Linked DNA regions of Homo sapiens. The protein of the gene in region 2 interacts with the protein of the main gene of each other region in a pairwise test. Each region holds a gene or a part of one and is shown on either strand. Other genes may lie near its edges.

Evidence for each region.
Region 1: the proteins of IL32 (region 2) and MEP1B interact in a protein complementation assay, tested with the Homo sapiens proteins (one study listed by IntAct).
Region 3: the proteins of IL32 (region 2) and NQO2 interact in a two-hybrid assay, tested with the Homo sapiens proteins (one study listed by BioGRID).

What each region holds. Positions count from the first base shown.
Region 1 is NC_000018.10:32,214,027-32,220,916, reverse strand, and holds the end of MEP1B (meprin A subunit beta isoform 1 precursor), read right to left. Parts: intron 5,836-6,890; coding exon 5,656-5,835; intron 3,927-5,655; coding exon 3,800-3,926; intron 3,157-3,799; coding exon 2,952-3,156; intron 687-2,951; coding exon 672-686; 3' UTR 513-671; downstream 1-512. UniProt on the Homo sapiens protein: Membrane metallopeptidase that sheds many membrane-bound proteins. Exhibits a strong preference for acidic amino acids at the P1' position. Known substrates include: FGF19, VGFA, IL1B, IL18, procollagen I and III, E-cadherin, KLK7, gastrin, ADAM10, tenascin-C.
Region 2 is NC_000016.10:3,061,487-3,068,646, reverse strand, and holds the start of IL32 (interleukin-32), read right to left. Parts: upstream 3,008-7,160; 5' UTR 2,960-3,007; exon of another isoform or gene 2,864-2,959; 5' UTR 2,836-2,863; coding exon 2,821-2,835; intron 1,271-2,820; coding exon 1,232-1,270; coding exon of another isoform or gene 1,094-1,231; coding exon 1,034-1,093; intron 664-1,033; coding exon 637-663; intron 468-636; coding exon 408-467; intron 1-407.
Region 3 is NC_000006.12:2,995,573-3,002,905, forward strand, and holds the start of NQO2 (ribosyldihydronicotinamide dehydrogenase [quinone]), read left to right. Parts: upstream 1-4,321; 5' UTR 4,322-4,513; exon of another isoform or gene 4,514-4,795; intron 4,796-6,477; exon of another isoform or gene 6,478-6,714; intron 6,715-7,333. UniProt on the Homo sapiens protein: The enzyme apparently serves as a quinone reductase in connection with conjugation reactions of hydroquinones involved in detoxification pathways as well as in biosynthetic processes such as the vitamin K-dependent gamma-carboxylation of glutamate residues in prothrombin synthesis.

The DNA of each region.
Region 1 (6,890 bases), on a different chromosome or scaffold from region 2:
CGTAATCTATTTGAGATCCTCAGTAACCTATTTGAGATCCTCAGTAATTTTTAAAGTGTAAAGATTCCTGAGATCCAAAACTTGGAGACTTGCCACTCAAAGAGTGAAAGGTTTTCTTGCTGATTACAGTCGTATGCTCAAACAAATTCTAAACCAAGCTCATGTACCAAAGGGATTATATAAGAAAACAAGAGTAGCCAGTTTTGGAGAAGAATGTATATTGACAGAGAGTGGGGAGCTGTCTCATTACCCTTCCCAATGCTGGGAAAGGATGGCACTGAAACTGCTGTGATTCTGCATGGATGATCATTCCCATTGGGTGTTTCTAGTGGGTTTCTAAGGAATCACTTGTGAGGACACCACACTTGGCCCCCATATGGAAGGATCAGTAATTTGAAAAGCCATCTCTAACTGTTGCTCTCCCTTTTTTCTAGACAATATTATACTTCCAGAAGAGCCTGAATTGCTTTTCTCTCATTTAAAAGAAGGAAACACAAACAGCATTTCACCAATTTGACTTTGACCAAAATAGTGATTTATAATATTTCCAGCTATTTACAGAAAAATATCCACTTTTAGAAGAATGAGGTGGCTGTAATATCACTTAGGCGAAATCCATGATGAAGAATCCTTTTTAATTTCATTAGCTGGCCATATTGTCGAGTTAATCTTCAAAAAGCATGCTGCTAAAAGGGGAAAGAACAATTGATGATTTAATTTCTAAATTTAAAAACTGCTATTTAAATGAATCATAATAAAATGATCTGGTCTTTAAATGAAGTCCCCATCAGCAGTCTCCTGGCCTCCCTCCTAGCTGGCAATGGCTCCTGCTCCTGGTCTCCATTTCGAGCCCTGGCTTTTCGGGCCCACATTATTCAGATGCTAAAACATTAGGGTGAACACATACATTCGCCTCAGAAAAAAAGGTCATTCTGATTTAAGATCTAAACGACATCTGGGAGATCTGTTACCAGTGAATTAGCTGTAGAAATGCCTAGCCTAAGATAATGTAAGTCAACTGCCTTGTCCTTAGGAATGTGTTTAAATGACCCAGAAACAAAACAGCTCTGTTGTAATATTATGGAGTGTGTGTGTGTGTGTGTGTGCATGTGTGTTTCCACTTACTATCCTTACCATGTCTCTAATACTGTCATGGTTTCCCTGCTTTATTGACTTAGCTTCCTAGCTTCCTTCTTTCTCTTCTCTTTGGTTTTGTCATTTTTCTTTAACTCCTTCCAGTTTTTACTTGCTAAGCAAGTTTATACTTGCTTATAACAGCTGTTACACTACCCATTCATTGTCAGGGAAATATCCTGGCAATCCCATCCACCCAGTTAACTTGTCCCCTCCTGCCCTTCTACTCTTCCACCTTCCATGCACCAACTCCTGGCTCATCCCAATGGCCCAGGAGACCGAACTTGCAGGCACAGCTGCCATCAGGTTGACCTACCAGGCCAAGTATTCACTGATCTTCCCCTTTTATTTTGAGTCATAAAATAAGCTGAAAGTTGTCTTAAAACAAAACAACCTGTTTATATTTTAAATACTTTTCTAATAATTTTGTGAAGTAATTGATCTATTGCCTTATTATTAGCATTAAACATCTTCCTGATGTTGAGGAAATAGGACAACAGCCTACGATAATACAACGATTTGCTTTCAGTTCATTATCATTGTTCATGTTTTGACTGACTTGATACCAGGCTGTCCCCTTTAAAAACTCGTAGCTTTAAATATAGTATGTCTTGAATAATCGTTTTTCTTAAGAAAATGTACTCTTGCTTTAGCCAATTGCAGTATTTTTATTTTTGGAGATATTCTAATTGGGCATTTTTTCTGACTGGCTTCAGTAGCAATTTTCAGAGACTCCAATTGGAATGAAATAGAAATGGAAGAATTTTAGGGCTTCACTTTTAAGTAATGCTCAGATTTTATGCCACTTTCTCTGTGCTTCTTTGAGAGGAATATGAATCTGCATGTAAAACTCTGTACTCTACTGCTGGAGTATGTAGTGGATGCTAGGGAACTGCTGCTTTGTCCTGCCCTTTGAATGAAGGCTGTTATGCAAGAAATGCCCTCCCCCAAAGGCCGTTGCCTTGCCCAATTTTATGCCCCCTCTTTGAGGGCAGCCCCCTTCCAGTGATGGGAGTACAAAGGCCTGGCCCCCTCCCTCGATTCAGGACGTGCCTAAGAGGGAGTCATCCCCACTCCAGAGCTCCCTGAAGGATGGGCTGAGGCCTCAGCTGCAACCACATCACATTCCAACCTCACCCTCTGCCCAGGCCAGCTCCCTCAGCCTATTATACGTGTTCCAGGAGCCCTCCCCAATAAACCTCCTGCGTACAAATATCCATCTCAGAGTCAGCTTCCCAAGGGACCCACTGGAAACAGGATCGTTTCAGGAGTCTATTAGCATTCTAGAGATTTTTTGAGGCAAGACTTTAAATCCTTTACTTGAAAACTTGCCTTAGAATTAGTTATTCCACATGAAGCCAGAATGAACTGGAACCTTCTTTAATGAAAAAGCTTCCCCAAACATGCCTGCATCCCCTTCCTATGGCCTCAGCTCACCACCACTACAAGACCTTTAGAACAAAAACACTTGCAGGCCACCTCTTCCCTTTACCAGGAAGGTTTGAACTTTCAGGCAAAATCAGTTGTGCCTTTCAGGTCACAGACCACCCCACACTCCAGGAAAAAAACCCACACACACAACTGTACACAATGTTGTATACAATTCCAGGAGGATAATGAACCTCCATAAATCCCAGTTTAAGAATCGTTGATTTACAGTGAAAGTAATAGGAACTTTTATAATCTGAAATCAGTTGTCCCAGCATAGGAAACAGAGAGAAGAAGGCAAGAACCAAAGTATATAAAAAATGTCCTAGTTCCTCTCCATAAGATTTCACCAATAGGTTATGAATAATCAAACATCAGCCTCAACTTACATTTTGCGGAGTCAAATTTGGTCGATTTGAGCTCATCCTTTCACGATATTTCTTCCTGGTGCAATAGACACTGACAAGGGTGATGATCAGCATCAAGGCAAACACAGCAACAGTAGATGAAACAGCAATGACTATGGTGTCTCGGGTGGAGCCTCTCTTTTCACACCTTTCTCCCATGTACCACCAGTCTTCCCCTGACTGGCACCTGCATGTTGAGAGCATGACTCAGAGTTATTAGTTGATATCTAACTCCAGAAATCTTCACAGTTAAAGATGTGGATCACCTTTAGTCTATTTGATCACCAATAGGTCATTGCTATATGAAACTATTTTACCCACTCTGGACTGGAGAGAGACTAGCACCTAGAGCACAGGTATAAACAATGGAAAGAAAAAATGGAATTCCTCCTAATCTGATACTAAAACAGTATCTCCAAGTTAGGAAAGGCCGATAGCACAGATAACAGAGAAAGTTTAGTTCTCAGTGTCCCATGCCCGCCACCCTCCAGATTCACATCTTGGCCAAGGGCTCCTCAGAACGTCAGTATCTTCATCTAGAAAATGGAGGCAGCTACACTTAAAATGACTGGACTGTTATGAGGACTTTTTCAGACAATTAGAATATAGAGTTCTATTTTTTTCATAAAAAAATTGTGTTGGCTATCACAAAGATAGTTCTTGAGGTTATCCAAAGCCCCAAAAGGAGAATAAAAAAAAAATTCTATGAATGGCTGTGAGATGAGAATCAACTGATTTCATTCATAAGAACTATTAAGTAATTAATCCTACATTATGGAAATAAAATTTCTAACCAAAGAATGGAGAGATCTCTTTCAAATCATCCTTACCTGCACTCAGCTTTGCCATCTCGAACAGTGCAGACACCGTCATTTTTACAGGTGGTTTTTGAGCAGAGGTCTTGAACACTAGGGGCTGGTGTTAGCTGGATTTGTGTAGAGTTGAGGTGAGATATGTCTAGGAAGATGGGGAAGAGTGTGGATGGAAATCAGCTTTTGTTTAACAATCATTTGATCTTTAATTTTCATTTTCTTTTAATGTTTCTTTTTTCCTTTTTTCTTTCTTTCTTTTTTTTTTTTAGAGGTGAGATCTTGCAATGTTGCCCAGGCTGGTCTTTGCTCCCAGGCTCAGACAGCCTTTCCACTCCGGCCTCAGAGTCCTGGGATTATAGGCGTGAGCCATGATGCCAAGCCCAATCTTAAGTTTCAGAATAGACAATGATCAGATTTTAGGCTTGTGAGAAATTCAGGTATCCTTGAAGCACAGTCTAGCAACATTCATAGGCAGCGAGATAAGAACTAGGCAAAGGGAAACTAGGCCAGCCTACTGGGGCTCCAACTCAACCACATGCTGGCCTGGATTCTGGGAGCCCAGAAGGGTACAAGCCACTGATACCAACTTTCAAGAGACAGATAAGGAAACCAAAACTCAGAAATGTAAAGTAATTGAGGGCATTGCCCAAGGTCACAGGTCTCTGGCTTGGTAGAGCAAATTGGTGGAGATTTGGAGCAAGACACCAAGTGCCCTGACAACCAGTGTTACATTCTTTGCAGTATTTGTTATTGCTTCTGGTTGAAATCGCTATGGTCAAAGAGAACTGATGCATACTGATTTTTGTTCTCTGCTACATAAAATATTTTCTCTCTTAACAGAAGTTATTTCTGAATAATCTCTCCAAGAGGTATCATCTAGATTTACTCTAATGGACACTGGAGTCAAAATTTTGTGGGTTTTAATTGCACCACCTTTCATCACAAACAAGAATCTGATTTACTGAGATCCAAGTGGGTCTTTAATAGAAAATGAGTTAAAATCCTACCACATAAAAAATAGAAACCACCAGAATTGCTGCAAAATGTATTTATTGGCTGCCAGGTGTAAGAAATTTAACATTAGTCTAACAAGAGATTAATGTCATTTCTGTCAAGATATATATATATATATATATATATATATATATATATATATATATATATATGCATATATGTATGCATGTATGTACATTTGAAACAGGTAAGATGCAGACGTTTCCAGTCATTTAATTTCATGTGCTTGTGTGATATTTTTATTTCAGGAATCCTAGGGTATAATAGTTCTATTTTAACTTATTTCTTTTCTTTTTTTGAGACGGAGTCTCGCTCTTTGGCCCAGGCTGGAGTGCAGTGGCACGAACTTGGCTCACTGCAAGCTCCGCCTCCCGGGTTCACACCATTCTCCTGCCTCAGCCTCCCGAGTAGCTGGGACTACAGGCGCCCGCCACCACGCCCAGCTAATTTTTTATGTTTTTAGTAGAGACAGGGTTTCACCGTGTTAGCCAGGATGGTCTCGATCTCCTGACCTCGTGATCCACTCGCCTCGGTCTCCCAAAGCGCTGGGATTACAGGCATGAGCCACTGCGCCCGGCCTATTTTAACTTATTTCTAAAGAAATTTCCCAACCTAAAGGTTTCCGCTATAGCTTCATGTGGTGGTCATTAAATTCTTTATTCTGGAATCCTCACTGTTTCAAATTAAATTATTTTCATATTGTTAATAATTCATATTCCTCCCAAACCCCATTCATGCCCATTCCCCCCACATCTCTATATAATACATCTAAAAGTGGAATGCAGAAAGAAAAACAGAAAATAATCAGTGGCCACAACAAAAAAAAACTAGTTTATATAAAACTATTTTTATTGACATACCTTCCACTGTCAGTAGGATATAAACATCATCTCCTTTTATAAAATCTCTGCTTTTCAGCCTTTCGTGGGTTATAAAGGCACTGGTTCCATAGCCCCCACCTCTTCTAAACTGAGTTCCATTAGAGAACAAAGCCACTGTTCCCACTTTAGAAGGCCTGTCCCAGAAATAGTTTCCATTATCTGAAAAAGCAATTTATATTAATGGAGTGTGTTTATCATCATCGTAGCTTTTGGTGGTAGGAAAGAACAGGCAATGTGAAACACAATTAGGCTGGAACTCAAAATAATTAAATGATGCTATTGACCTGTGATGTATTCCCTGGCAAATCACTGGGGCTTGTTCATTTATACTGTCCTAGAGGAAATGAAATTGCCTGGCAGGGAGGACCACACTCTAGAATAAGAGTGGAGAGGTACCAGAAGTTTCCTAGGTACCAGATATTCCTGGGAATATCATATCTTTACTTATTGGCCAGTATAGAAACCCTCCTATCTATTAGAATAATTTAGAATAGGCTTCAAGGCTACTAAGAGAGTCCTTTTACAAAGTTACAGATTGTCCAGTTAAAGCAATATGTTGCTGAGAGAGTTTTTAATATCAGCATAGGATGATTTATCTTATTAACTGAATTATTCACCTAACAGAGCAAAGTGCTTCAGAAGTAGAAGACAACAAGAAGCACTGCTTCTGGGAAAAGATAATGACCTACCCAGCCCTGAGCTGTTTTTAATGTCATTTAGTAAGAAACACTTTAGGAAAAAGTGAAGAAATTCTGAATGTCAAGTCCCTACAATTCCATTGGTGAATATTATTGTTTTCCTATGAGATTAAGTTGGATTTTTTTCTATGTCGATTTGGTCCATGTTTTTCATATATAGAATTCACATTTGGCAAAATTATTCAGCTTGCCATAATTCCATTTTTTCCTTTACTAGGGTCTCAGAAGCAAAGAATTATTAAAATTAGTAGTGTGATCTTTGCTTTCAGTGGGTTGCTTCTTTTTGAGATGGGAAAGATGGGGAATGATGTCATGATTAGCAAGTCCTCTGTAACTTTTTACTAAGAAATTATAATGCATTTTCATACCCTTCCCACCAACACTTGAATGCACCTGCTCAATACCTTCCTTCTGGTCAAAAACTACCCCCATTTCAAACGCTGAATTATTTTTGACAATCCCAGTGACGTGAACAAGGTAGCATGAGTTAGAAGAACCCAACATCTGAGGGCCTCT
Region 2 (7,160 bases):
ACCCTGCCCACACCACATCAAGACAGGGCAGGGGTTGGCTGGGCCCGGTGGCTCATGCCTGTAATCTCAGCACTTTGGGAGGCCAAGGCAGACGGAACACAAGGTTAGGAGTTCAAGACCAGCCTGGCAAACATGGTGAAACCTGGTCTCTACTAAAAACACACACAAAAAAAATCAGCCTGGAGTGGTGGCGGGTGCCTGTAGTCCCAACTACTTGTCAGGCTGAGGCAGGAGAATCACTTAAACCCGAGATTTGGAGGTTGCAGTGAGCCAAGATCATGCCACTGCACTCCAGCCTGGGCGACAGAGCGAGACTCTGTCTCAAATAAACAAAAAGAAAGAAAGAAAGAAAAGACAGGGCAGAGGTGAAGGAAGGCAAGGTGCCCAGATGGGTGTGTCATACTCACTGGGTGCTGCTCCTCATAATAAGCCGCCACTGTCTCCAGGTAGCCCTCTTTGAAGTCGTCCTGGGGAGAGGAGGGCACAGGGGGTTCATGCTGCTCCTGCCTGCCCCCTTCCCACTGTGGCCCCCACTGGTCCAGGTGATTCCCAAGGGGACCCGGGGCCCAGACCCAGTGTCCTGTGGAGCCTAAGACCCAGGGACTAAGCTTGGTGGAGGGGGAGGCCACGGCTCACCTCCAGCTCTGCCAGGCTCGACATCACCTGTTAGGAACAAAGCACTCGGTTCCAGGCCCAAGCCTCCTCTGCACCCCACATCAGTCAGTCCTCAAGCCCAGTGAGTCCTCAGCTCCCACACACCCCGAACTGGGCCCAGCCAGGGGCCCGGGCCACGTCTGGCACCCCTGTTGTTTCCTCAAGGAGCCCTGGGGCTTGGATGCCTCCCTCAGTCTCCCCGGGCGTCCAGATCCCCCACCCGCCCACTCACTGCCACCCAGGTGCAAGCATTTGCCCACGGTAAGGGGTGAGGGAGCCTGTGGGTCCCTCTTCATCCTTCTCACCCTGAGCCCCACACAGGGTGGAGTGCCTGGGGGCGGGGACATGTGACCTGGTGCCTGAGGGGAAATCCACCCACCTGTCCACGTCCTGATTCTGCATTTTGCATTTTATCATAAAATCTTTCTATGGCCTGGTGCTGTGAAGAGAGGCAGAGTTGGCACCAAAGGGCCGGATCCTTGTCCCTCCAGGGTCCCAGGTGTCCCACAGTGTCCTCAGTGTCACACGCTGAGACCCAGGCCCCCAACCCCTGAGCAGAAGTAGGGAGGAGCATTACCATTCGGGCCTTCAGCTTCTTCATGTCATCAGAGAGGACCTGCGGAAATAACGGTGACACTCAGTCTCCATGTGTCACCTTAACCTTTCCTCCAGGATAATTTATACACACACACACACACACACACACACACACACACACACAGAGACACATGGCAGAGGTACAGGATAAGAGGAGACAGCAGTCCCAGGAGCCCCTCACAGCCTGGAAAGACCGGCCAGGGCTGTCCTCGAAACGACTCAGAAAGCGCTTCTCTCAGGAGCCGGCTCAGCTGGGCAGGCCCAAGAGCAGGGCCAGCATGGGCCTAGGTGACCCCTCCTCACAAGAGCAGGGCCTGCGTGGGCCTAGGTGACCCCTCCTCACAAGAGCAGGGCCTGCGTGGGCCTAGGTGACCCCTCCTCACAAGAGCAGGGCCTGCGTGGGCCTAGGTGACCCCTCCTCACAAGAGCAGGGCCTGCGTGGGCCTAGGTGACCCCTCCTCACAAGAGCAGGGCCTGCGTGGGCCGGGGTGTCCTCCCTGCACACACACACCCCCCCATGTACACACACGGGAGGATGGACACTGTCCTGGAGCAGGCTGGCTCAGCTGGGTTTCCCACAACCACTATGGTCCCAGGTGAGAGTTGGCCAAGGAAAAAATGTTTAGGGACATGACAATTGAGAAGGTAACAGCAGCCATTCCTCTCTGATGAGCTGATTAATATTTGGGGTGCCAGGTAGGTCCACCCTACAACCTGCCACTCTTCCCGACTGCCAACATGCAGACCCACAGGTCCCGGGCCATTCCTGCCTGCAGACACGTGGCTGCATCCACAGAGGCCAGAGGCACCCCACAGAATCCCCGCTGAGCCCCCACGTCAAGGGCCTAGTCTCGGGGGTGACATGCCTGGTTTCCCCCACTATAGAGTGGTGACAGTCACCCACAGAGTGCGCAGGGCCTGGGGACATATTCTGGGCAGGGCAGCTGTCTGCACACTTTCAGGCAGCGATGGTCCCATCCCGCTAGCCTGATTTCCCAGGAACCAGGGTGAAAGCAGCACCGTGCCGACATGCGGGAGCCATGTGTCCTCCGGGTCACTGTCCTGAACCTGAGCCAGGCCACATCATGGAAACCCCTATTGTCACAGGCCGAAGAGCTCCCTGGAGGGTGTGGTGGGCCTAGCATTTGCGGTGGGGCAGTGGTAGAGGATGGGAGGTCGGAGGGAACCCAGGAAAGGAGGAAGAGACACCAGGACCCACACAGGCCTTGCTCTTGGGCCCACCCAGCTGAGCCGGCCTCTGAGAGAAGCATTCTCCGAGTCGTTTCCAGCAGAGCCCTGCCCCACCCCTGCCCCGGGCTTTCCGGGCTGTGAAGGGCTCCTGGGACAGGTGCTCCCTCTCATCCACACCCCTGCCGTTCTCCAGCGCCCCCGACACATATGACCTCCAGCGCCTCCACTGACACTCTCACCCCATCACTATCCTCCTGCCGCTGGGTGCCCCTGACTGAGCCCTGACACACAGGCACCTCGGGAAATACTGAGGGCACCCGCACCCTTACGGTCTGTTTTCAGACATGCCCACAAAAGCACACGCAGCCTCTCACTCACCTTCGGGAAGCACATGGCGGCCAAAAGTTCAAGGAGCCAAGGCCTGCTGGCGAGGAACAGGTGTGAGGAAAAGAAAGTGTCTCAGAGAAGCACCCTCCTCCCCAGAGGGTCCTCACCTTCGGGGACCCCAACTCCCCACCTGAGATGACCCAGCTCCACTGAGACAGTCACCTTCTGCACGCAGTCTTCCTGGCACAAATACTCAGCTGGTTTTATGGGGAAAGTGGGGGGTAGTGGGCGGAGCCTCTCTCAGGGCAGGAGGCCTTGCTGAGTGCGTGAAAAACAGACAGAGACAGAGACAGAGACAGAGACAGACAGAGATGGAGACTTACCCGAGAGAGACAGAGGTCTGGGGTCCCTGGGAGGAATGAGGGTCCGTCCCTGGCTGGGCCCCTGCTCCCTCTGAGCTGGGGTGGGAGTCTCTGAGCCCAGGAATGGGCTGCTTTCCCCACCCCACCAGCCTGAGAGTGGGGAGGGGCAGAGGGAAAGTCCAGACTCGGGACAGCTGGCTGGGGAAACTCCCTGAGTACAGGAAGGTGACGTCAGCCAAGTGGGATCCAAGGACAAAGGAATTTGGACCCTGTCCTTGCATGAGGTGTGCCCCGGCTCCAGAGGCCAGAGAAACTTCTGGATCAGAAGGAGGCAGGAACTGCCGGACCTAAGAGGGGCGCCGTGAGGGCAGGGGCCTGTGCACGTTGGAGGGGTGGCTAGTGGTGATGTAGATCTACCTGTGGGACAAGATAGGACCCTCTGCAGGGTGGAAGGCATCCTGCCGGCTGTCTGAGCTTGGCTGACCAGGTCCTTCTGACCCTTCTGGGCCAAGGCAAGGCCATCTGGGGCCGAAGGTCACTGGTCTCAGCAATCTTGGGGCTCCCCTACGGGCTCTTCTAGCTCCACGGGTTCTGACCCTCCAGCCTGGCTGGGCCTCCCACCTCCTCCTCACGGCCCCCAGCCCCCTTCCCCCAGCTGAGCACAACCACGCCCTTGCCTTTGGGATGGTTTCCTGGGGCCAAACTAAGGAAGTACCACGACAAGGGGCCCTAAGTCGAAGACGTCTCTTCCCTCACGATCTGCAGGCTGGAGGTCCAAGGTCAATGTGGGCAGCGTGGGGTCCTTCTGAGGGCCCGGAGCTGGGATTCTGTTCAGGTTTCTCCTGCCCTTGTAGATGGCCATCTTCATCTTCATCACGTTCTGCCTGGGTGTGACTGTCCCCCTTTCCCCTTTCCAAAGGACACCAGTCATATTGAAATAGGGTCCACCCTAGGCCGGGCGCAGTGGGTCACGCCTGTAATCCCAACACTTTGGGAGGCCGAGGCGGGCAGATCACCTAAGGTCAGGAGTTCTAGACCAGCCTGGCCAACATGGTGAAACCTTGTCTCTACTAAAAATACAAAAATTAGCCTTGCGTGGTGGCCGGCACCTGTATTCCCAGCTACTCGGGAGGCTGAGGCAGGAGAATCACTTGAACCCGGGAGGCGAATGTTGCAGTGAGCTGAGATGGTGCCACTGCACTCCAGTCTGGGGGACAACAATGAAAATTCCCCTCGGAAAAAAAAAAAAAAGAAGTAGGATCCACCCCAGTGACCTCATTGTACCTTAAGTACCTCCATAAAGACCCTGTTTCCAAATAAGGGCATATTCTGAGGTCCTGGGGCTTAGGAATTCAGCATGGATGCAATGTATCCCATTATATTCTCAAAGGGGACTCGGAGAGACAGAACCTATAAAACACGCTCCATGGAGAAATCTTCCCTTGGGTGAAGTAGACAACGGTTGTCACCTGCCTGCCACTTAGGAGTCCATTCCACTGTGCGCAACCGCCTTTCCACATACAGGATGTCCAGATCTTTCCCTGAGTATCCTCTGAATTGTAGTGGGAGACAGAAGGAAGCCACTCCTGCACCAGCTAAAAGTCATGCTTTAGGCTTCAGCTCCAACCCTAGCCCCTCATGACTCTCAAAGGCCACCATCTGAAGACATCTTGGGATCCACCCAGACTGTATGTACCCTGTTTTTATAGCTTTATGGTGATGCAATTTACAGGCAATGCAATTCACTCATTGAGCTGTACAATTCAAAGCACAGAACTGTGCAGCTATCACCACAACCCATTTTAGAACATTTTTATCACCTCTAAGAGAAATTCTGCCCTTCTGAGACATCACTGCCAGTCCTCATTTCCCTGGATAACCACTCATCTACTTTTTCTTTTTCTTTTTTTTTCTTAGAGTCTCGCTCTGTTGTCTAGGCTGAAGGGCAGTGGCACGATCTCGGCTCACTGCAACCTCTGCCTCCTGGGTTCAAGCAATTCTCCTGACTCAGCCTCCCGAGTAGCTGGGATTACAGGCACGTGCCACCACACCCAGCTAATTTTTGTATTTTTAGTAGAGACGGGGTTTCACCATGTTGATGAAGGAGTCTCGAACTCCTGACCTCAAGTGATCTGCCCGCCTTGGCCTCCCAAAGTGCTGGGATTACAGGCATGAGCCACTGTGTCTGGCCTCATCTACTTTCTCTCTCAATGGATGCCTCTCTCCCAGACATTTCCTATAAGTAGAATTATACACTAGGTGATCTTCTGTGTCTAGCTTCTTTCACTGAACATGCTATTCTTGAGGTTCATCCGTGTTGTAACACGCATTATTCCTTCATTCCTTTTTCTGGCTGAATAATATTCTACTGTGTGGATAGACCACATTTGGTTTCTCCATTCACCCCTCGAAGGACATTTGGGTTCTTTCCACTTTTTGGCTAATTCCGAATAATGCTGCTATGAACATTCACGTACAAGTTTCTGTGCAGACGTATGTTTTCACTTCATATGTATGAAGCAGAAGAATAGCTGGGTTACATGGTAAATGTGTTTTTATCCTTTTGAGGAACAGCCAGACTATTTTTCAAAATGTCTGTCATTTTACATTCCCAGCAGCAGTGTGCGAGGGTTCCCGTGTCTCTACAACCTCAGCAATACTTGTTATTCTCTGTGTCTTTTCAATTCCAGCCATCCCAATGGGCTGAAATGGTATCACGTGACAATTTTTTTTTTTTTTTTTTTTGAGGTGGAGTCTTGTTCTGCCACTCAGCCTGGCCTAATTTCTGTATTTTTAGGAGAGATGGGATTTCACCATGTTGGCCAAGGAGTCTCGAACTCCTGACCTCAAGTGATCTGCCCGCCTTGGCCTCCCAAAATGCTGAGATTACTGGCATGAGCCACTGCGTCTGGGCTTATCTACTTTCTCTCTCAATGGATGCATCTCTCCCAGAGATTTCTTATAAGTAGAATTATACACTACGTGATCTTCTGTGTCTAGCTTCTTTCACGGAACATGCTGTTCTTGAGGTTCATCTGTGTTGTAACACGGATCAGTCCTTCATTCCTTCTTCTGGCTGAATGATATTCTACTGTGTGGATAGACCACATTTGGTTTCTCCATTCACCCCTCAAAGGAAGTTGGGGTTCTTTCCCCTTTTTTGCTATTCTGAATAACGCTGCTGTGAACATTCACGCAAAAGTTTCTGTGCAGACTTATGTTTTCACTTCTCTTGGATACGTATGAAGGAGAAGAATAGCTGGGTTACATGGCAAATGTGTTTTTATCCTTCTGAGGAACAGCCAGACTATGTTTCAAATTGTCTGTCATTTTACATTCCCAGCAGCAGTGCCCGGGGGTTCCTGTTTCTCCACATCCCCAGATACATTTGTTATGCTCTGTGTCTTTTTAATTCTAGCCATCTTAGTGCGCTGAAATGGTACCATGTGACAATTTTTGTGTTTCTTTTTTTTTTTTATTTGATGCAATCTCGCTTGGTCTCCCAGGCTGGTGTGCAGAGGCACGATCTCGGCTCACTGCAACCTCCAACTTCTGGGTTCAAGCGATTTTCCTGCCTCAGCCTCTCAAGTAGCTGGGATTACAGGCATGCGCCACCACGCCTGGCTAATTTTTGTATTTTTAGTAGAGACAGGGTTTCACCATGTTGGCCAGTTGGTCTAAAACTCTCAAACTCAAGTGACATCTGCCTCTCAAACGTCTGCATCAGCCTCCCGAAATGCGGGATTACAGGCATAAGCAACCGTGCCCAGCCAATTTTATTTTTATTTTTATTTTTTTGAGACACACCTGTTGCCCAGGGTGGAGTGCAGTGGCGTGATCATGGCTCATTGTTGCCAAGACTTCCCGGCTTCAGGTGATTCTCTCCTCTTCGCCTTCCAAGTAGCTGGGAATACAGACACGGGTTGCCACCATGCCCGGCTAATTTTTTGATTATTTTGTAGAGACAAGGTCTCACTATGTTGCCCAGGCTGGTCTTGAAACCCTGCGATCAAGCCATCCTCCCACTTT
Region 3 (7,333 bases), on a different chromosome or scaffold from region 2:
AATCTTAAAAGCTGCAAGAGATGTACAAGGGATCCTCAATAAATCCATACATCTGTGGCCAGTGAATTTTTGACAAGAGTGCCAAGTCCATTCAATGATGAAATAATAGTTTCTTTAATATATGCTGTGAGAGAAATGGATTTCCACATGCAAGACTAAAGTTGGGCTCCACTTCACACCATATGTGAAAAATAATTCACAACCTAAATATAAGAACTAAAGCCATATAGAGGAAAACGTAAGAGTAAATCTTCATGATCTTGTGTTTTGGGTTCTTAGATAAGACACTAAAAGCCCAGGAAGAAACAACAAAAAATAGGTAAATTGGAGTTCATAAAAAATGTGAAACTTTTATATCAAAGGACATTTTCAAGAAAGTGAAAGACAACCTACAGAATGGGAGAAAATATTTGTAAATCCTATGTCTGATAACATCCAGAATATGTAAAGAACACCTACAACTCGGCCGGGTGCGGTGGCTCACGCCTGTAATCCCAGCACTTTGGGAGGCCGACGTGGGCGGATCACCTAAGGTCGGGAGTTTGAGACCAGGCTGACCAACATGGAGAAACCCTGTCTCTACTAAAAATATAAAATTAGCCAGGCGTGGTGGCGTATTCCCGTAATCCCAGCTACTCGGGAGGCTGAGGCATAAGAATCACTTGAACCCAGGAGGCGGAGGTTGCGGTGAGCCGAGATCTCGCCATTGCACTCCAGCCTGGGCAACAAGAGCAAAACTCCGTCTCAAAAAACAAACAAAAAACCTACAACTCAACAACAAATAGACAAACAACCCAATTAAATGGTCAACAAAGGACTTGAATAGACATTTCTCCAAGGAAGGTATACAAATGGCCAGTAAGCACATGAAAAGATGCTCAAAGTCATTAGTCCTTAGGGAAATGCAAATCAAAACCACAATGAGATACCACTTCGCACTTGCTAGGATGGCTATAATTTAGAGGGAAAAAAAAGAAACATAACAAATGTGCGTGAGAATGTAGAGAAGTTGGAACCTGTGTACATTGTTGGTGAAAATGTGAAATGGTGTAGACGCTGTGGAAAACAGTTTGGCTGTTCCTCAGAAAGCTAAACATAGAATGACCATAGAATTGTAATACCGACAATTCCACTCCAAGGTGTATAACCAAAATTATTGAACACAGGGACTGAAACAGATACTTGTACACCAATAATCATTGCAATATTATTCACAATAGTCAAACAACAGATGAGTGGATAAACAATGCCTGGTACCCTTCCTTCCTTCCTTCCTTCCTTCCTTCCTTCCTTCCTTCCTTCCTTCCTTCCTTCCTTCCTTTCTTTTTCTTTCTCTCTTTCTTCTTTCTTTTCTTTCTGTCAGTCTTGCTCTTGTTGCCCAGGCTTGAGTGCAATGACACAATCTCAGCTCACCGCCACCTCTGCCTCCTGGGTTCAAGTGATTCTCCTGCCTCAGCCTCCCGAGTAGCTGGGACTACAGGTGCACACCACCATGCCCAGCTAATTTTTGTGTTTTTAGTAGAGATGGGGTTTCCCCACGTTGGCCAGGCGGTATACACATTTTTCTATTATTCGGCCATAAAAAGGAATGAAGTTCTGATGCATACTACAACATGGATGAAACTCAGCAACAAGGTTTTTGAGGAAAAAAAGCTTAGTGAAAAGGCCACATCTTGTAGGATTCCACTTATATGAAATACATGCAATAGACAAATTCATGGAGACAGAAAGTAGATTAGAGGCTACCAGGAGTGGAAGGAGGGGAGAATGGGGATTTATTATCCAATGAGTGCAGTGTTTCTATTTGTTTTTGTTTTTGTTTGAGACAGGGTCTCGCTCTGTCATCCAGGCTGGAGTGCAGTGCCACGATCTCAGCTCACTGCAGCCTCCGCCTCCTGGGTTCAAGCAATTCTCCTGCCTCAGCCTCTGAGTAGCTGGGATTACAGGTGTACACCACCTGGCAAATTTTTGTAGAGATGGGGTTTCGCCATGTTGGCCAGGCTGGTCTCAAACTTTTGACCTCAGGTGATCTGCATGCCTCTGCCTCCCAAAGTGCTGGGATTACAGGCGTGATCTATGGCCCCTGACCCAAGTGTTTCTATTTGGGATGATGAAAACGTTTTGAAAATAAATAGTTGTAATGGTTGCACAGCACTCTAAAGGTAATTTATGCCACTGAATTGTACACTTAAAATGGTGAAAATAGAAAATTTCATGTTATACAGATTTTGCTACCCAAAAAACAAAACAAAAAATCCAAAACCTTTATGTTATTATGAAGAAGCAGTTTTCCAAAGGAATAGGGATGCTGGTAGCAGAAGGGAAAGAAATCTCATTAAATAAAAACAAAAGCAATGACCTCTTCAGGAGGTGGCTCAGCTAGTTTAGCTTTACCTTAGCACCATGATGGTTCATTTTATTCAGAAATAGAAACATGGGGCGTTGGGGAGAAGAGGAGATGTGTACCTGCCTCACCTGCCTCCCTGCCCAGAATGCCGACTCCGACTCTTGCTTTCCACTAAGGCTGGGGATTAAATGAAAAGTGAGAATCTGGAAACCCCCAGAGATGATGTTTGTCGTTGGAGCTGATTTTATCTCATTTTAGTAGCATGACCTCCTCCTCAAACTCAGGATGCAATTATGGTCAATCTCATTAGTGTGCAGTAATTGCTCAGCCCCAATACCAGATTAGCAGGAAGTTCTGTTATTTTCCTTTTGAGGATGGGCTCCTACTGAACTGTCCTGGAATCTACCACCATTCAGGTTACAAAAGACCCAGGGAACTAGGCCAGTCCAGCTCCCAACCCCAAGCAGGGAGCAACTTGCTCAGTCCACGTTGTGATAGCTCCTCGCTGCCACAAGGTGGTGATGTTGCATCACACACGCGCATGATGGGCGCGCAGGCGCCAATGCTCCCAGGACCTGCTGTTCCATTCCTAAATGAAAGTTGTTCCCAGGATCTGGACTCACAAGACAAGGCAGCCTATTCCCTGCTGGGGAGCTCAGGGGCAAGAGGGCATCTCGGAGGGAGGGCACATTCTCACCTCTGAAGACAAGGAGAACATCATCAGCACATAGACCAATCCCAGCAGTGCACCTTAGGATGGGGAGGGCCACTGTGAGTTACAGCAAAATGAACGAATGAATGAACCAATAAATGTCTGAGAGGGAAAGTCCCAACGACCCTCAGGAGGTACAATCAAGAGTTGCAGTTATTTTCGTTAGGAACGTTCTAAACACAGGGGAAACCTTCCTTCCTTCTGCTCTATTGTTGGAGTGGGGCCATCCCGGGACACCAGAAATCAAGGAATTGAGTTTGGAGAAGGGACTTGGGGAGGTCACAGTGGCAGGTGACTGCCAAATGAGGTGGCAGAAGCCAGCAAGCGCTGGAAAAAGTCGGCCCAAACTGTTCACCAGCACCGCCCCCCATAACTCCCCACCGGCTCTGGTTTCAAGACTTTCCGTTTTCTAGGTATTTCCTTGGCCTTAAACCATTTTCCTTTAAACGAACTTTTTCTGTGAAGCCATCCGGTTTCCCCCGATAGTGGCATCTCACAAAGGACAATCCAGTATCCCAACAGCGTGTTGCGTTCCGCGGGACGCAGATTTCCTTCACAGGCACCCCCCGGGTTGCGTTTTTATAGCCACACCCACCCGCCCCCCTATCTCCTGGGCACTGCTAATGAGTCCTGCATTTCTCTCCTTTGGTCTTTGGATAAATGAACCATCCGTGCGTGACCTTTGCGAGGGCATCTTGCATAATACCAGTACACCAGCGGCGCCGTCGGTGAGTGACCTTTGGGACTGGTTTCTCTCACCAGCGTAACTCCCCGGGAGATCCGAGCAAGCTGATGAGTGTATCAGTGGCTCATTCTTTCTGTTGCACCACGGACCCTCATTCTGTAACCGGGATACCAGCCAGAGATGGGGAGCGGGAGGCGCAGGGCAGGGGCGTCCCTCCTCTCAGCACAGCCTCCCCGCGCTGGATTTCTATCAATCCAGTTTCCACCTGCCTGGAAGTCAGCAGGGTCCTCCCCAGTCCCAGATCGCCGGGCGAGGCCCCAGATGGACCTCAGGGGCGGGGAGTGGGCGGAGCTTAGGGGCCGAGGCGAGGTGTGGGTGGGGCGGGACGCCGCTGTGGAGGCGGGGCCTGGGCGCGGACGGGCGCGGAGCGAGGCACCGCACCGCCGGGGCGGGGAGTGGGCGGGGCTCGGGGGCGGGGCGGGGTGTGGGCGGGGCTCACGGGCGGGGCGGGTGAGTGGGCGGGGCCTCGGCGTGGTAGGCGCGCTGCGTAAAGAGGCCTGCAGTCCCGCGGCGCGGGGCAGGTTCCGGGCTGCTTAGGTTGGCACCGGTCCGTGGTCCCCGGGGGCGCAGTCGCAGCGCTCCCGCCCTCCAGGCGTCAGCGAGTGCGCGGTCCAGTGCGGCCGGAACCTGGCGCAACTCCTAGAGCGGTCCTTGGGGAGACGCGGGTCCCAGTCCTGCGGCTCCTACTGGGGAGTGCGCTGGTCGGAAGGTGAGTGATCCCCTGTCGGGGACCGGGGGACTTGGGAAGGACAGTTCCCGGACTGGACGGCCAGAACGCTCTCAGGGATTTCAGCTGGCCGGCCATATGGCCCTGTGGGTCGTCGCGCCCGGGCCAGGGACCATTCTGTACATAGGATCGTGCTTGGCTCTCACGGAACGCGCCCACACGCAGGGTCCCGGTGTCGAATCGTCTGGTGGAATCTGCCCTCAACCCTATGGAGCGGGTGCTGGTATCATAGTCATATTACAAGTAGGAATCAGCGGGCCCAAGGTCAGTCTGTAAAGGGGGTACCGGGGTTTAGGCCCGTGCGCTGCCCAGCGCTGCCCTGAAGGCGCGGCTGAACCACTGGTTTGCGCTGCCTTTGTCAAGGACATTGTGGCACTGTGGAAAAAATGAAAAATCAGCTTCTCTAACCTATAATCTCTCTGGGAAAAAAAAAAATCAGCTTTTTTTTTTTTCCCCGAGACGGAGTCTCACTCTGTCGCCCAGGCTGGAGTGCAGTGGCACGATTTCGGCTCACTGCAACCTCCGCCTCCCGGGTTCAAGCAATTCTCCTGCCTCAGCCTCCCGAGTACCTGGGATTATAGGGGCGTGCCACCACGCCTGGCTAATTTTTTGTATGTTTAGTAGAGACGGGTTTCATGTTGGTCAGGCTGGTCTCAAACTCCTGACCTCGTGATCCGCCCGCCTGGGCCTCCCAAAGTGCTGGGATTGCAGGCGTGAGCCACTGCTCCCGGCCCTCTTTTTCTTTTTTCTTTTTTTTTTAGAAGAGTCTCACTCTGTTGCCCAGGCTGGAGTGCAGTGGGGCAATCTCAGCTCACTGCAACCTCTGCCTTCCAGGTTCAAGCGATTCTCCCCCCTCAGCCCCTTGAGTAGCTGGGATTACAGGCGCCTGCCACCATGCCCGGCTAATTTTTGTATTTTTAGTACAGGTGGGAGTTTCACCATATTGGCCAGGCTGGTCTTGAACTCATTCTTCTTCCTTTCTTTTTCTTTTTTTTTTTTTTTTGAGATGGAGTTTCACTCTTATTGCCCAAGCTGGAGTGCAATGGCACAATCTCAGCTCACTGCAACCTCTGCCTCCCGGGTTCAAGCTATTCTCCTGCCTCAGTCTCCCGAGTAGCTGGGATTACAGGTGCGTGCCACTACACCCAGCTAATTTTTGGTATTTTTAGTAGAAATGGAGTTTCACCATATTAGTCAGGCTGGTCTCAAACTCCTGACCTCAGGTGATCCGCCTGCCTCGGCCTCCCAGAGTGCTGGGATTAATGAACCACTGCGCCCGGCCAAAAATCAGCTTCTTTAACCTTTAATCTCTGAAAAAATAAATCAGTTTAACCTTTAATCTCCGAAGATCACAGCCAAAGAAATACATGAAAAGGAACAAGTATTAAATAATATATACTTCTAGCTGTGCTGTTTATAGTTTTGGGAAAAAAATGGAAATAACCTAAGGTCCCAGAAATAGGAAAATGGGCACAAAAGGGTATGCAGGCAATGGTTTAGCTGCCGCATGAATACACACTGAATACACTGTGAGATGTTGTCTGTTAGAATGCCCAGCACGGGGACTGTCCACATGGAAAGAGGCACAGGAAAAAAAGTGAAAACATTATAAAATAACTTCTTAAAATTAAATAATGTACACGTCAAAAATATCAGAGCCCACTTGACCTGGTATATACAGTTTAATAACCACATGGCTCTTTTTTCCTGTAGGCCTGGGTAGGTGCATAGTTTCTAAAAAGGGAGAGAACTGTCACTGCTGTGGATGGGGTGCCAAGGGAAGTGCCTGGGGTCAAGTGAACAGTGACACAACTGCAAGTCAAGAGCCTGTGTTGGAGTCTTTCCCCACTATTTCAAATAGTATAGAAAATAGAGCTGAGTCACTCAAATAGAGCTGAGTTAGTCACTCAGCTCTTGGACCTCAGATTCTTATTCTTAACCGCTAGGGGGATGGAGACAGAAGTCACAAACTCACATGCCACCAGCCATATGATGTAAACATGTAAACTGGGCCAAGGAATACAAAAGGGAGTGGTGAGCTGGGGACACTGAAGAATGGATGCCCTGTCTAGAGGAGTGAAAATGAAGCATTTCATACAAACAACATGATTTCGGGCAATCACTTTGGGAATCAGGATAAGGTGTTCCCCCAGTCTGCAGAAACACTGGCAACATTTACAAAGGTAAATCATTTCATATCACTCTATTTTCTTTTTCTTTTTTGAGACAGAGTCTTGCTCTGTTGCCCAGGCTGGAGTGCAATGGCACAATCTTGACTCACTGCAACCTCCACCTCCCAGGTTCAAGTGATTCTCCTGCCTCAGCCTCCCAAGTAGCTGGGACTACAGGCACATGCCACCATACCCGGATAATTTTTGTATTTTTTAGTAGAGATGGTGTTTTGCCACATTGACCAGGCTGGTTTCAAACTCCTGACCTCAGGTGATCCCCCCACCTCGGCCCCCCAAAATGCTGGGATTACAGGTGTGAGCCACCACAACTGGCGATCATTCCATATTACTCTCCAGCTTAAGAGGCTCCAAGGGCTTTCTGTCAGGCTTAGAATAAAATCCTCACCCCTACCCTAGGAGGGGTCAGGTCAGACCCCTCCCACCTCCCTGACTGCATCTACCACCATCCACTCTTTTTTTTTTTGAACCACAGTTCAGCCAAACAGGCTTTCTTTTTTTTCTTTTACTTTCTCTTTTTTCTTGAAACAGAGCCTAACTCTGTCACCCAGTCTGGAGTGGAGCAATCCTCTAATCTCAGCCCCCTGAGTAGCTGGGATTACAGGCATGCACC